Homo sapiens: one gene and its partner. The protein of the gene in region 1 interacts with the protein of each later gene in a pairwise test. Each region holds a gene or a part of one and is shown on either strand. Other genes may lie near its edges.

Region 1 (5,072 bases):
AAAACAAAACTCAACTCTAAACTCTGAAGAATGTACAAATTCCAGTGAGTTCTTGATGACTATAAAGACCCTGTTATTCTCACACAGGGTGGAGGCAGGAATTTCGCAAACTACACAAATAGCTGTAGTTTTACCAGCACCACCCTAATAATTTTGCTTCACACTTTCCCAATCATTGAACAGTTCCTAAGATAATGTGCCTATTTTGTTTTTAGCATTGTTAGCCACATCTAGAAATGTGACAAGGAGTCTAAATTGCTTCTTTGGAAGTATTTAAAGCCATTTGTAAGTCTTCCTCTGTGGTTCCCTAAAAATGTTGTTTAAATGTGTATTCTAACTTTCCAACAAGAGGGACAGTTTATGGATGGGAAATGGATTTGTTTCTTTTCTATCCTAGATATATCTAAAATCTAGTATTCTATATAGGCACTCAACAAGATTGTGCAGCCAACTCCCACAACTACAGAGACAGCTTTTCATTTAAACATCACACTTCTGTAATAAACACTTACAAAGGTAAGAACGTTTTAATTAAATGGATTTATTTAAAAAGACTATAAAATCTGACATCAAGAGAGATAAAAAAAAAAGACCCATAAGATTTAAATTGACAAATATAAAATGATTGGCTACAATGTAAAAATACATTTCCCAGCCCCCAAACAAAACACAAGTATAGTAATTATAAAATTTTTGTACTGTGAGTTCATTTCTCTTATAATTCTTGAGAACCATTCTAAGCAATCTATTTGTATAAAATATAAAATTTATCATAACTGTTAATTTAAAAATTATTTTAAATTTGAGTTTATTGAATTTGCCATTTTTTTGTACATAACAGTGGTTTCTGGTCCCAAGTTCCCCTTGAACTTATTTACTACAATGGTCTTTTTACTCCTATTTATTTCCTTCTACAATAGAAAAGAAAGGCTAACCATTCATGGGTCCCATAAAAAACAATGTGAAGGAAGGTTCTAAGAGTGACCAAATATACCAGTGAACATACTATCTTTCTGAAAAAGAAAGAATTAAGTGACCAACTAAGAGATCCACTTTTGCACCAATGAAACACATGGAGGTGAAACCTCAGAACAAGCGGAGCTTAAGCTCAATGACAGTATGTTTTATATGACAGGCCAGCTGAGAATGTATCTGTCAATCCTGACTAAGCCCAATACATGGGTGGTGACCCTGAGGTAGCCCAGATGATATGCTCTGAATTTTAGATAGGTCTAAATCACAATGGTACAGTCTGATGTGAAACTTTAGTCTACCTACCATAAACTCGTTTTCTGAATCAGTCCTTATTCATAATTAGACCCAAAACCCAGCTATTTCTCCTCTCTTAGATGACATGCCCAATAAAAACAGCATCCATGATTGGTTTCATTATCTCCCAATTAAGTAGTGGTGACACCACCACTAACACTAGTATCCAAACTCTGATACAAATCCTAAAGGTATTGAGTCAGTAAGACAGAGCAGAAGCTATGTTGGGCCATACTGACCAATTTCTGAGAACCACATTAGCCACATTCATGCAATTAAAACCCATCTAAGACACACAAATGGCAGATGAGAAAAAAAAAAAAGGATGAGGTCATTAAACTTTATCACTGGAAACATGATTCCACTGTTTCAAATAGGAAACCTACCCTGGGAGACTTCCACCAAAGTGCAGAAGGACCTGATGCACGGGCTCATCATCTTAACACTAGAGTCCCAAGTCAAAACTCTAGGAGGAGGATAAGAAAGGTCTAGTCTGTGAATCACCTGGACAGAAAGGTCATATCCCAAGTGCCCTGCCTATCTGTGACAGCTGCTAGCCAACAGACAATTCTGGTTATGAAGTTATCTCTTGAGAATGGCTTGATTCTCTTATGCCACCAACAGTATTAGTCTGGGCAGGGTTCCCTGGATATTTACTTTTTTTTTTTTTTTTTTTTGCCAAAGACAAACTAGAGCAATGCCTATGTAAGAACAAGGACTCTCAAGATCCTGCTACACAGTATTCACAATCAAAAGGGCCCAAGATTCAGGACCACCTAAAGACAACTGACAAAAAGTGTCAGAGCCAGAGGCCAACCTCTGCTAGATGAAGCAGCAGCACATGACTCCATTTCTATCTGATAAGGAGACAGAGAAGAGGCATCTCGAACAGATGAAAAACCAAAGGCTGGTGTCCTAAAAAAAACAGATTGGCTTCAAAGAAAACACTAAGGAAGACCCACAGAGCTGTATTAATTTTAGTAAAAATAATCATATGCCAACAGGGGAATTGAACCACTTTCTAAATCATAGTATGAACTCATCTCTTCAGATACTTGGTAAGTGGTCAAAGCTTGTTTTTATAATTACTTTCACTGTCTTGGGCAAAAAGTCTTTCTTATCTTTGGTCCTTAGGTGTGGTATCAGTTTCTTCCATTTTTTTATGTGTTACAAAACAATCTTTTTTTTACTTGACATCAACAACCAAGGTGCAGTATAAACACGAAGTTGCTGATATTGTTGCTTTTATACACATAAAATACCAACATCTCCCATACATTTTATAGGCTATACGAAGGTCTCAAAGAATTAATAACCGTTATCCAAAAATATTATAACATTTAAGGCTGAGTGAAATACAGTAAAGCCTGGTAATATATGTTAAGGAAAAAAACCTAGACCAACATTTTAAATATTGGTTTCTTAAATATGTTAAATTCCCATTAACAGAACATAATCTAAGCATCAAAACAAACAGCTAAGCAAATTAATTTAAAAATAAAACAATTTCTAAGTAGATGAATATAATCACGATGTTTATACAGCTATAAAGCATAATTTGGAAGCTAAGCCTAGTAAAAGAATGACCTGTAACAGAATGACAGAATCATTTATCAACCGTTGAGCTGTGTGATTTAAAAACAATTGTTTTCTCCTCCTCCCACCAAAATCTCCATTTGAGATAAGTTTCAATTATTATTTAAAAAAAAATTTTTTTTAACTTATCTGGCCTACTTTGTGGTGACTGACACAATATTGATAAAACTGCCTTCTTGACCTTCCCCTTGCTCTCCAAAAGAAGTGGTTTAAACAATTAACAAATTTTACAAGAGCTTCTGCCAGGGCTCAGGCACCACAATGCAGGGTCACTACCTTAGGTAACATCTGCTCCCCAGAGTCTTTAGGCATTAAGTGGCTCAGTGAGGGCTTCAGCCCTAGTGGTATTTTCAGGTTTTCTCAGCTGGGACTCCTGTCGTTTTTCATACAGCATAGTGATAAAGTCAAGTAGGAACATAAAACTTGCTATAAATCCAAACACCTGAGGAAAAAAAGGAGGAAAGGTTATATGAGAATTTTGGAATATAATCTTACATTTCCTACTTGGCTTGGAGAATGTTTCATATAAACAAGATGTTCATGAATTTTATCTTATACACGACTACTCTTTAATGGTAAAAAAAATTTTTTTAAGTCATCAAAAAATGGAAAGAAGTTATAAAAGAAAAACTTCCAGAATAATGGCTATTAGTCAAAGTCTCACAAAATATTAATGTTCTGCCTTATGTGTGCATGTTTATATGTGGAGGGCTAATATATGAAAGTAGGGTTAACAGATAAACATTAAATCCTATAAAATGATACAAAACAAAAATATTTGCATGGTTAGATTGACCCACAGATGCGATAAGGAAAATACGTGACTAGGCAACTCAGCCTAGGTGAAAATGAAAAAAGTTATTAATATCAAAACAGAAATTCCATTTTGAAGATACTATTAGGTTAAATTACTTAAATAATGTTCCAGTTGTCACACTGCAATGACACAGTGACATGACGCCACTACCTACTTCCTCTTCCTTAAATCACTTCCTCAACTGTTCTCTTCTAAAATACGATCATACGTTCTGAGAATTCTATCAAGAGACAGAAGACCATGCGTCTGCTTCAAATTTAGCTTCTCCACTAGCAAAACCCTTAAGGATATGGGGGCCAGATAAGTTCTCTGTAAAAAAGAGAAAATTGATGTAGGTGATGGCTAAAGTCTCTTCCAAATCTAAACTCCCTATCTCCACGATTTTTATTAATAACATTCTCTTACAGTCTGTTGCAGTCTCCTGACCTCTCCTCCCCCCTCTAAAGAATAAGCATTCCACCTCATTTTACCACAAAGTAAACTGAGCTCCAAATTCATTAAGTCCCCCAGATATCCCCAACATATCCAATCTAAATTTAATTATCAACGCCTCCCACCCTCCCATCCCCCGCCACAAAAGCCAAGTCTTTTTCCCTCTGGAATCTTTATTTTTGACTTGATGGCATTTATCCCCTTATTTTCCTGGCAACTTTCTTAAATACATCAAACTCAGACCAAATGTCACCCTTGTTTTTGAAGCTGTCTCTGATCACCACAAGTCATCTTCTAGCTCTTTTGTTCACACACTTCTGAATTAAAAAAAAAAAAAGAACTTCCTCATGCATTTAAGTCTATAAAACTTTTCATAATTTAAATAGTTACAAAAGGTAATTTCCAGCATATTATAAATATCAGCTTTTTAAACTACCTGTCACTATTAAATATATCCAATGAAATATAAATACTGGGACAGTCTAATTAAAATATAAAAATTTTTTTTATAGCTGTAAATTTTTTCCCTGGAACTCAATTTTTCCTCAACTTCATTTCACTTTCCCCACAGAATTTTATAGTAATGTATTTTTATACAAATAAGTAGCCAGAGCTTTTTAAAATTAAAAATGAGTTAAAAAACTCATTATTTTATTGATCACCATCTCATACTCCTCTGCAACAAAAATGTTTCTAAACTGAAATTAACCATAAAGCCCTATTAAAACTTTGATTTTTCTCTTCTATTGGTTCATGTACCCATGAATAAATATTGCTTATTGCTAGAATGAATCAAGATTCAGTGTTAATTTTATTTCTATGTTTTGTTTTTACACATGTAAGTGCTAAGAAACTGTTGTCATATGAATAGATAAATATAGCCATGCAATTCTCTGAACTCCTTTTGAGTTTTCTATCATAAAATGCAGTTTTAATGATGTATTAGCTGACAACTCTA
Region 2 (7,130 bases), on another chromosome or scaffold:
CCTACTGCCCTGGAGTTGGCCTGTCTCTGGGACAAGGACTGAGCTTCAGACATCTTTGACCCCATCACAGGGCTTGGGGTGCCCACTAAAGGGTTGTCAAAAGCATGAGTGGCTCCAGCAGAAAATAATTTGCACTTGTAAAGTGAATGAACAATAAATAAATGGACAGATGACTAGATACAGGGCCAGGCCCACTTTAGCAGGGAGGATCTGGAAGATGAGAGAGGGCACAGAGAGATTGAGGGGCCAAATTCCAGGGAGTGAGGTGAGAACAGGGAGCGACCCAGAGAGCTCGCTCATGTCAAGAGGCCCACCCACCTGGGGAAGACAGAAAGTCAATGCCCATGAGGGGAACCAGACCCTGTGCTGGGTACTGGGACCTCGGAGATGCTGTGGTCTTGCCCTCAGAGAGTGGGACTGGCGAGACGTGGCTGACCTCCCTCCCTCCCTTCTTCTCTTCCTTTTCTCCTCCCTTTCTTCTTCTCTCTCCACATCCCCTCTCTCTCTTTCTTTCTTTCTTTCTTTCTTCCTTCCCTCTCTCCTTTCCTGCCTTTCTTCCCTCCCTCCTTCCCTCTCTTTCCTTCTTTCCCTCCCTCTCTCTTTCCTTCCTCTCTCTTTTTTCCTCCTTCTCTCTCTCTCTTTTTCCTTTCTTTCCTGCCACAAACATCATTTGACTCCTGCTGTAGACCAGACCCTGTGCCAGCTCTGGGGGAACGAAGGTGAACGAAGACAAGGTGCCCAGACTTCAAAGGACCCAGGGGAGGACCCTGACCCGGTGAAAACTCCTTTAAATTTTCTCTGGGAGTGTTGGATGAAGCATTCAGGGAACATTCCATGGGACAGGAGGAAGAAGACTCCAGCCTGCAGTGGGGCAAGGCCCCCTCCATCTGTCAGTCCATAGGAAGTGGCTCTCCATATTCTAAAGGCAGGACTTGAGAGGGGTCTATTAGTGTCCAGATGTGGAATCCGGGACTTAGGGAAATACTTGAGCGCTGAAAGAATAAACTGTGTCACCAGAAGAAAACCCGGCAAAGTCAAAATTACCAAAAGTTGAATTAAAGGTCTTCAGACTGTAACATTGTGACAACTTTATTAATTGCTCTATTTAGCAGTCACAGGAAGGACAGTAACGTGTGAACAGGTTTTGTTGCTTTGATCTTTCTTATTTGCCCAGAATTCCTGAGTAGGCAGTTCAAGTGTGAGAAACCAGGACCTACTAGAAATTGGATGGATGATTCGTACTTGACTGATTTCACAGGCAAAATGGTGACAAGCCTTTCAGCAATTTTACTAGCAAAATAAGGCAATTATCTTTGATGGGTGCAATGGGAGTGCACACCTGTGTGTTTGTTATCTGGAGAAGGGGTGGGGGCTGCTTCTGTCCACAGGAGAAGGAAGGTCAGTGGGCAGTCTGGTCAGCTGAGCACCCCCCAGCCTGGCTGGCCCCTCATGCAACCCCAGCCCTGTCACTCGCTTTCTCTGGTCTCAGTAGGCTGCATGACCTCTTAGGCTGTTTCTAGCCAGGGCACTGAGCCAGGTATGGAAAAAGATACCAGCTTGGAGGTTAAGGCTGGGCCAGTGGGATCAGGAAGCTGCCCCAGCTGGGGATTAGCAGTCACGCAGCAGGTAGGATGTCCTAGTCTTGGCACAGCTAATCTTTAATGCCTCACTGGGAATTTTCAATAAGAAATTCATCTCGCGACCCTCATGGCTGGGGCCTTTGTCCCTAAGAGGCAAACATCTTCTATGTGAGAAGACTTTGTGTAACCTGGAGAGGGAAGAAGAGGAGGAGGAGGAGCACACAGGAGGAGTTGTCACTGTTTCTTTTTCCGGAATGACTCAGACCAGCCAGCCTGAACCTCGGGTGACCTCTGAGGATCCCAACCTCCCCACCCACCAAGGACCCTATATTATATATTATATAATATTAATCTTATGACAGATGCTCCTCATTTTATTTTATTTTTGTTTGTTTGTTTGAGACGGAGTTTCGCTCTTTTGCCCAGGCTATAGTGAAGTGGCACAATCTTGGCTCACTGCAACATCCACCCCCTGGGTTCAAGTAATTCTTCTGCTTCAGCCTCCAGAGTAGCTGGGATTACAGATGCCTGCCCCCACACCCGGCTAGATTTTGTATTTTTAGTAGAGACAGGGTTTCACCATGTTGGCCAGGCTGGTCTCGAACTCCTGACCTCAGGTGATCTGCCCGCCTCGGCCTCCCAAAGTGCTGGGATTACAGGTGTGAACCACCATGCCTGGCCAGATGGTCCTCATTTTATAATGGGTTGTGTCCCAGTAAACCCATAGTAAAGTTGAAATATTGAAGTCAAACCATCGTAAGCCGGGACCATATGCGCACATATTCATCAGCATCTTCTTCGCCATCTTTGCTGTTGCCGTGCATCATGGGCCTACCCTATGCTAAGCCTTCATGGGTATTACACTAATTTGACCTCACAGCATGCCCTTGAGGTGAGCACTGTTCTTAGTCCCATTTCACAGATAAAGAGCCTGAGGCTCAGCAAGGTGCGGTCTCTGGCCCAGGTCACATGGCCAGCAACCAGCAGAGAGAGAGTATTCATGCCCAGGACAGCCCAAGCCCAGTGCCAGGCTCTGAGCACTGCCCTCAAAGCCCCTCACCATCGTTTTGATTTCCTAGGTCCTTGCCTGTCCACCATGCCTCTGAGATCCAGGAACAGCGTGTTTACCCATTTTACAGATGAGGCAACTGAGGCCTGGGCCAACACCAGGTCTCGAGGTCACTGCATCATGCTCAGCACCCTGGGCTATGTTCCTGGGCTGGGACAAACTGCCTTCACAAGATTTCAGCACAGCCCTTGGCTCTGTGCTTCACAACTGGGGGAAGAGCGGGGCTCAGACGTTTGGAGAACCCGGTGTCAGGCAGCCAGGGAAGGAGGTGTGACAACCATTCAAGACCACAGGCAAGACTGCAGCAGGGGTCTAATGGTCTGGGCTCTTGGGGCCTGGCCATCACCTTCCTGCAGCCGCCCAGCTCTGTGCTGTAACAGTGGAGCCATGGTCAGTGTAGGAACAGCCAGCTCCTGGAGCCACTGGTCTTGTCCCACCGTTTGCTTGGTTGCATCATTTTGAGGACAGGCCCCCCAGGTCCTTGCTGAATTGCAGGTGGGTGAGCAGAAGGGCAGAGACCTATGGTGACCCTGAGCTCTGTGCCAGTCCTTCCCAGCCTGAGGCCAAGTGGGCACCCACCCGAGTTTCCTGTGCTGTTCCGGGTTGACACAGGCCCAATGCAGCAGGCGTTACAACCAACCCAAACATCAGTGGCCGAAGCAAAAACAGGATACTCAGGCCCAGGGACTCTCCCTCTCTGCTAACTGACCTCAGCCTGATATGGGTGGAAGGGTCTTCCCTGGTGGCCCAAATGCCTGGTTCCTGTCCTTGCAAGTATGGACAAGCCACCTCCCTCTCTGAACTTCAGCTTTCTCAACTGGAAAATGGAGCTCTGAAAACCTGCCTTACAGAGTTTTCATAAAGACTAACAGAAAAGTGCATCTAAAGTGCCCTTTAGGGACACCAAGCCCAGTGTCAGCACAAGCAGCTGCCAGGCATCTGCTGCACCTGCCGGGTGCAGACCCCTGGGGGCAGGACCCCTGGGAGGCTGTCTGACTCCTTGTGGGCCACAATTCTAGACCCATCTCGGTCCCTGTCTTGCTGAATGACCCCAGGCTGGTGGCTTCCCCTCTCTGAGCCTCAGTTTCCAAATGATGACGGAGTTAGACCGGATGGTCATTATGGGTCCTCCTGCCAGGACATTCTCCAATTCATTCATTCTCAGTCTTCTCCCAGTCCTCACCCACAAGGACCAAGGACCACCCCCTCGGTAGCTGCAGGCTCCATGAGGACCTGGTCTTAGTCTTGGCGGAAAGCCCTCTCCATAGCCATCCGTTTCAATTCAAGCATCCTGGGTGACCTTTGAGTTGGAAATCTCTCTCTCTGCTCATCCTGGAGAGGGGTTATTTTCCTTGGAGTGTCCTTGGATGATCCCAGAACCAAGGCTTGCTTCTGTGGGCAGCCTTCCATCCCATCTCCACCATATAATAGCCGCCACCATTCAGCAGAATCCCAGCAGACTGTGCAGTGGGGCAAGGATTTCATGAGCATCCTCCTCTAAACGCGTGAGTGGCGTGCTCCCCCCAGTGGCACCACACGTGGTGGTCTTTGGAAGGCTTTGGGGGCAAGAGGCAGAGGGGTGGGATTGCTTGGGTTAGCTAATATTTTGAATACAGCAGAGATAATCAATATATCTCTAAATGTGCTCTAAATGGCAAGTTCGTGATGAGTACTCACTAAAGATTCCATTTCCCTCTGGGCAATTCTTACTCCTGTTCTTCCCATGACTGTCCAGGTGTCAAGACAAATGGCAAATCAGAGTAAATTTAGAGATCTATAGATTATATTAAAATAAGTGTCAAACTAATGAACAATGCAGGGTCATGAGGTGGTCTCCATTGATTTGTTCATACTTATATTCAACAAAGATTTATTCGTTTACTGTACTGTACTAGGTGCAGGCTTTTTACTGGCGCCTGAGGATTCGACAGTGAAATAAGTCACAGTCCTTCCTCTAAGGAGTTCACAGCCTGGTAGGAAAGGTGGTCAAATCATCAGGGAAGTGTTATCCAAGACCTTGATCAGGATAATGAAGGCAGCAAGGTGGGACTCCTCCAACCTAGAATCTGGGAAGGGGCCTACAGTAGGCTTCACAGAGGGCATGATGTAGGAATTGACCTAAGTGGAAAAGTAAAGAAGAAGAAAAATATTTTAGGCAGAGAAGACAGCGTATGAAAAGGAACTTTGTGTCAAGAGTATGGGCTTGGAGTCAAGTCTGACTTTTCAAATCCCAGCTCCTCTGCTCACTGACTGTGTGTCTCCGGGCAAGTTGCTGTAGCTTTCTGACCTTGGCTGCCCATTTGTAAAATAGGAAATAACCACATCTATCTTAATGGAATGCTAAATGTTAAGAGTGATGGGAACTCACTGAAGAGTCCATTTCCCTCTGGGCAATTCTCACTCCTGTTCTTCCCATGACTGTCCAGGTGTCAAGACAAAAGATGCTTCAGCTTTGGAAACTTGTTCTCCTGTGCGGCGTGCTCACTGGGACCTCAGAGTCTCTTCTTGACAATCTTGGCAATGACCTAAGCAATGTCGTGGATAAGCTGGAACCTGTTCTTCACGAGGGACTTGAGACAGTTGACAATACTCTTAAAGGTAAATCAACAAGGGTGATGAACAGTGTCACCTAAATTAGCCTCCTAAACACTATGCCTGCATTACCAGAGGCTGCCACCAGGGGCTACTCTTTATGGGCGGTTTACTGAGAAAAGTGGCTATTCAATTCCTGACTCATTCGTTTATCTTTCTAGAAACAAGCAATGCCACAATGAATAGCCTTTTACATATTATATCCTGATAAACGTGCATAAGATAAATTCCTACAAGTGGGATTTCAAAAGTTCAAAAACTATGCTGTTGACAAATAATCTCCTATGTTAACACTTTCTCCAACAGTCTACGAAAGTGCCTTTTTTCCCACTCCTTTTCCAGCACTGGGTATGGACAACTTTAAATATTCTGCCTGTCTCACAGATGAAAAGCTATAACTTATTTCACTTTGCATTCCTCTAATTATGAAGGAGCCCTCTTCTTTTTTCATATATTTACTATGTACTTACATATTTTAACTTGAGGATTTTGTCTATATTCTTAGCATATTTTTCTTTTGGGTTGTTTAATATTCTTTTATGGACTTGTGTTAATTCAGTGAAAATTAAGGAAATTATCCCTACCTAGCCTTGGTATCTGTAAAGCTACCTACCTTTATATTTATTTATACCTCCTTTTTATGCTAACCTATTAAAATAACTTGGCTTTCTTTTTGTTTTATGGAAACATTAGCAGCACATCAAAAACAGTTTTTGTAGGAGGAGGTAACTTCTGCAAATGGCTGCCTTTCAAACCTTGTCAAGGGCTTAGGTAACTTTCAAAGATGCAGAAAGGACTCACACTCTAATTTCACAGCTGAGAAAACTGAGGCCCAGAGACAGAAATGTCTAAACCAAAGTCACCTCGTGAATTATACGATTAGACGTAGTTATATCACCAATTTTATTTAAAGTGTCATTCTCTGAATCATTATAACTAGGTAGATATTGTCCATTACAGAGCCAAGTTACAATATTATGATTACATCTCTTTTCTTATACGGTATAGTCTTTTGTTTTTCCTTAAGTTAGTAATTGCCCTGTTGTTTCTCACTTGAATTATTTTCTTCTCATATATACTTAATTATTTTCATGAGCATCATCCTGTATCTATCATGACATTTATTATTTTTTGAGACAAGGTCTCACTCTGTCACCCAAGCTAGAGTACACTGCCAGCCTCAACCTCCTGGGCTCAACTGATCCTCTCACCTCAGCCTCCCCAGTAGCCGGGACTACAGGTGCACACCACCACACCTGGCTAAGTTTTACATTTTTTGTAGCGGTGGAGTCTCACCATTTTGCCCAGGCTGGTCTCGAACTCCCGGCCTCAAGTGATCCTCCTGCCTTGGCCTCCCGAAGTACTGGGATTACAGGCGTGAGCCACCACACCCAGTCACGACATTTATTCCCATCCCCCTGTTCTCCAGAGACCTATCATAAAGACACTTTGTCCTCCTCCTCCTATAAGAATTATTGCTTTCTTTTGGTGCAACTGCTTTTGGTGTCATGAAGTCTTTGCCCGTGCCTATGTCCTGAATGGTATTGCCCAGGTTTTTTATGGTTTTGGGTTTTACATTTAAGTATTTAAACCATCTTGAGTTAAGTTTTTAATAAGGTGTAAGGAAGGGATCCAGTTCCAGTTTTCTGCATACATCTAGCCAGTTTTCCCAGCACCATTTATTAAATACAGAATCCTTTCCCCACTGCTTGTTTTTGTCAGGTTTGTTGAAGATCAGATGGTTGTAGACATGTGGTGTTATTTCTGAAGTTTCTGTTCTGTTCCATTGGTCTATATGTCTGTTTTGGTACCAGTACCATGCTGTTTTGCTTACTGTATCCTTGTAGTATAGTTTGAAGCCAGGTAGCATGATGTCTCCAGCTTTGTTC

Evidence for each region.
Region 2: the proteins of CMTM6 (region 1) and BPIFA2 interact in binary tests that used the Homo sapiens proteins (3 or more experiments, as listed by UniProt).

Annotation. Positions count from the first base shown.
Region 1 is NC_000003.12:32,480,791-32,485,862, forward strand, and holds the end of CMTM6 (CKLF-like MARVEL transmembrane domain-containing protein 6), read right to left. Parts: intron 3,308-5,072; coding exon 3,170-3,307; 3' UTR 522-3,169; downstream 1-521. UniProt on the Homo sapiens protein: Master regulator of recycling and plasma membrane expression of PD-L1/CD274, an immune inhibitory ligand critical for immune tolerance to self and antitumor immunity.
Region 2 is NC_000020.11:33,164,056-33,171,185, forward strand, and holds the start of BPIFA2 (BPI fold-containing family A member 2 precursor), read left to right. Parts: upstream 1-4,103; 5' UTR 4,104-4,154; intron 4,155-5,075; 5' UTR 5,076-5,090; coding exon 5,091-5,247; intron 5,248-7,130. UniProt on the Homo sapiens protein: Has strong antibacterial activity against P.aeruginosa.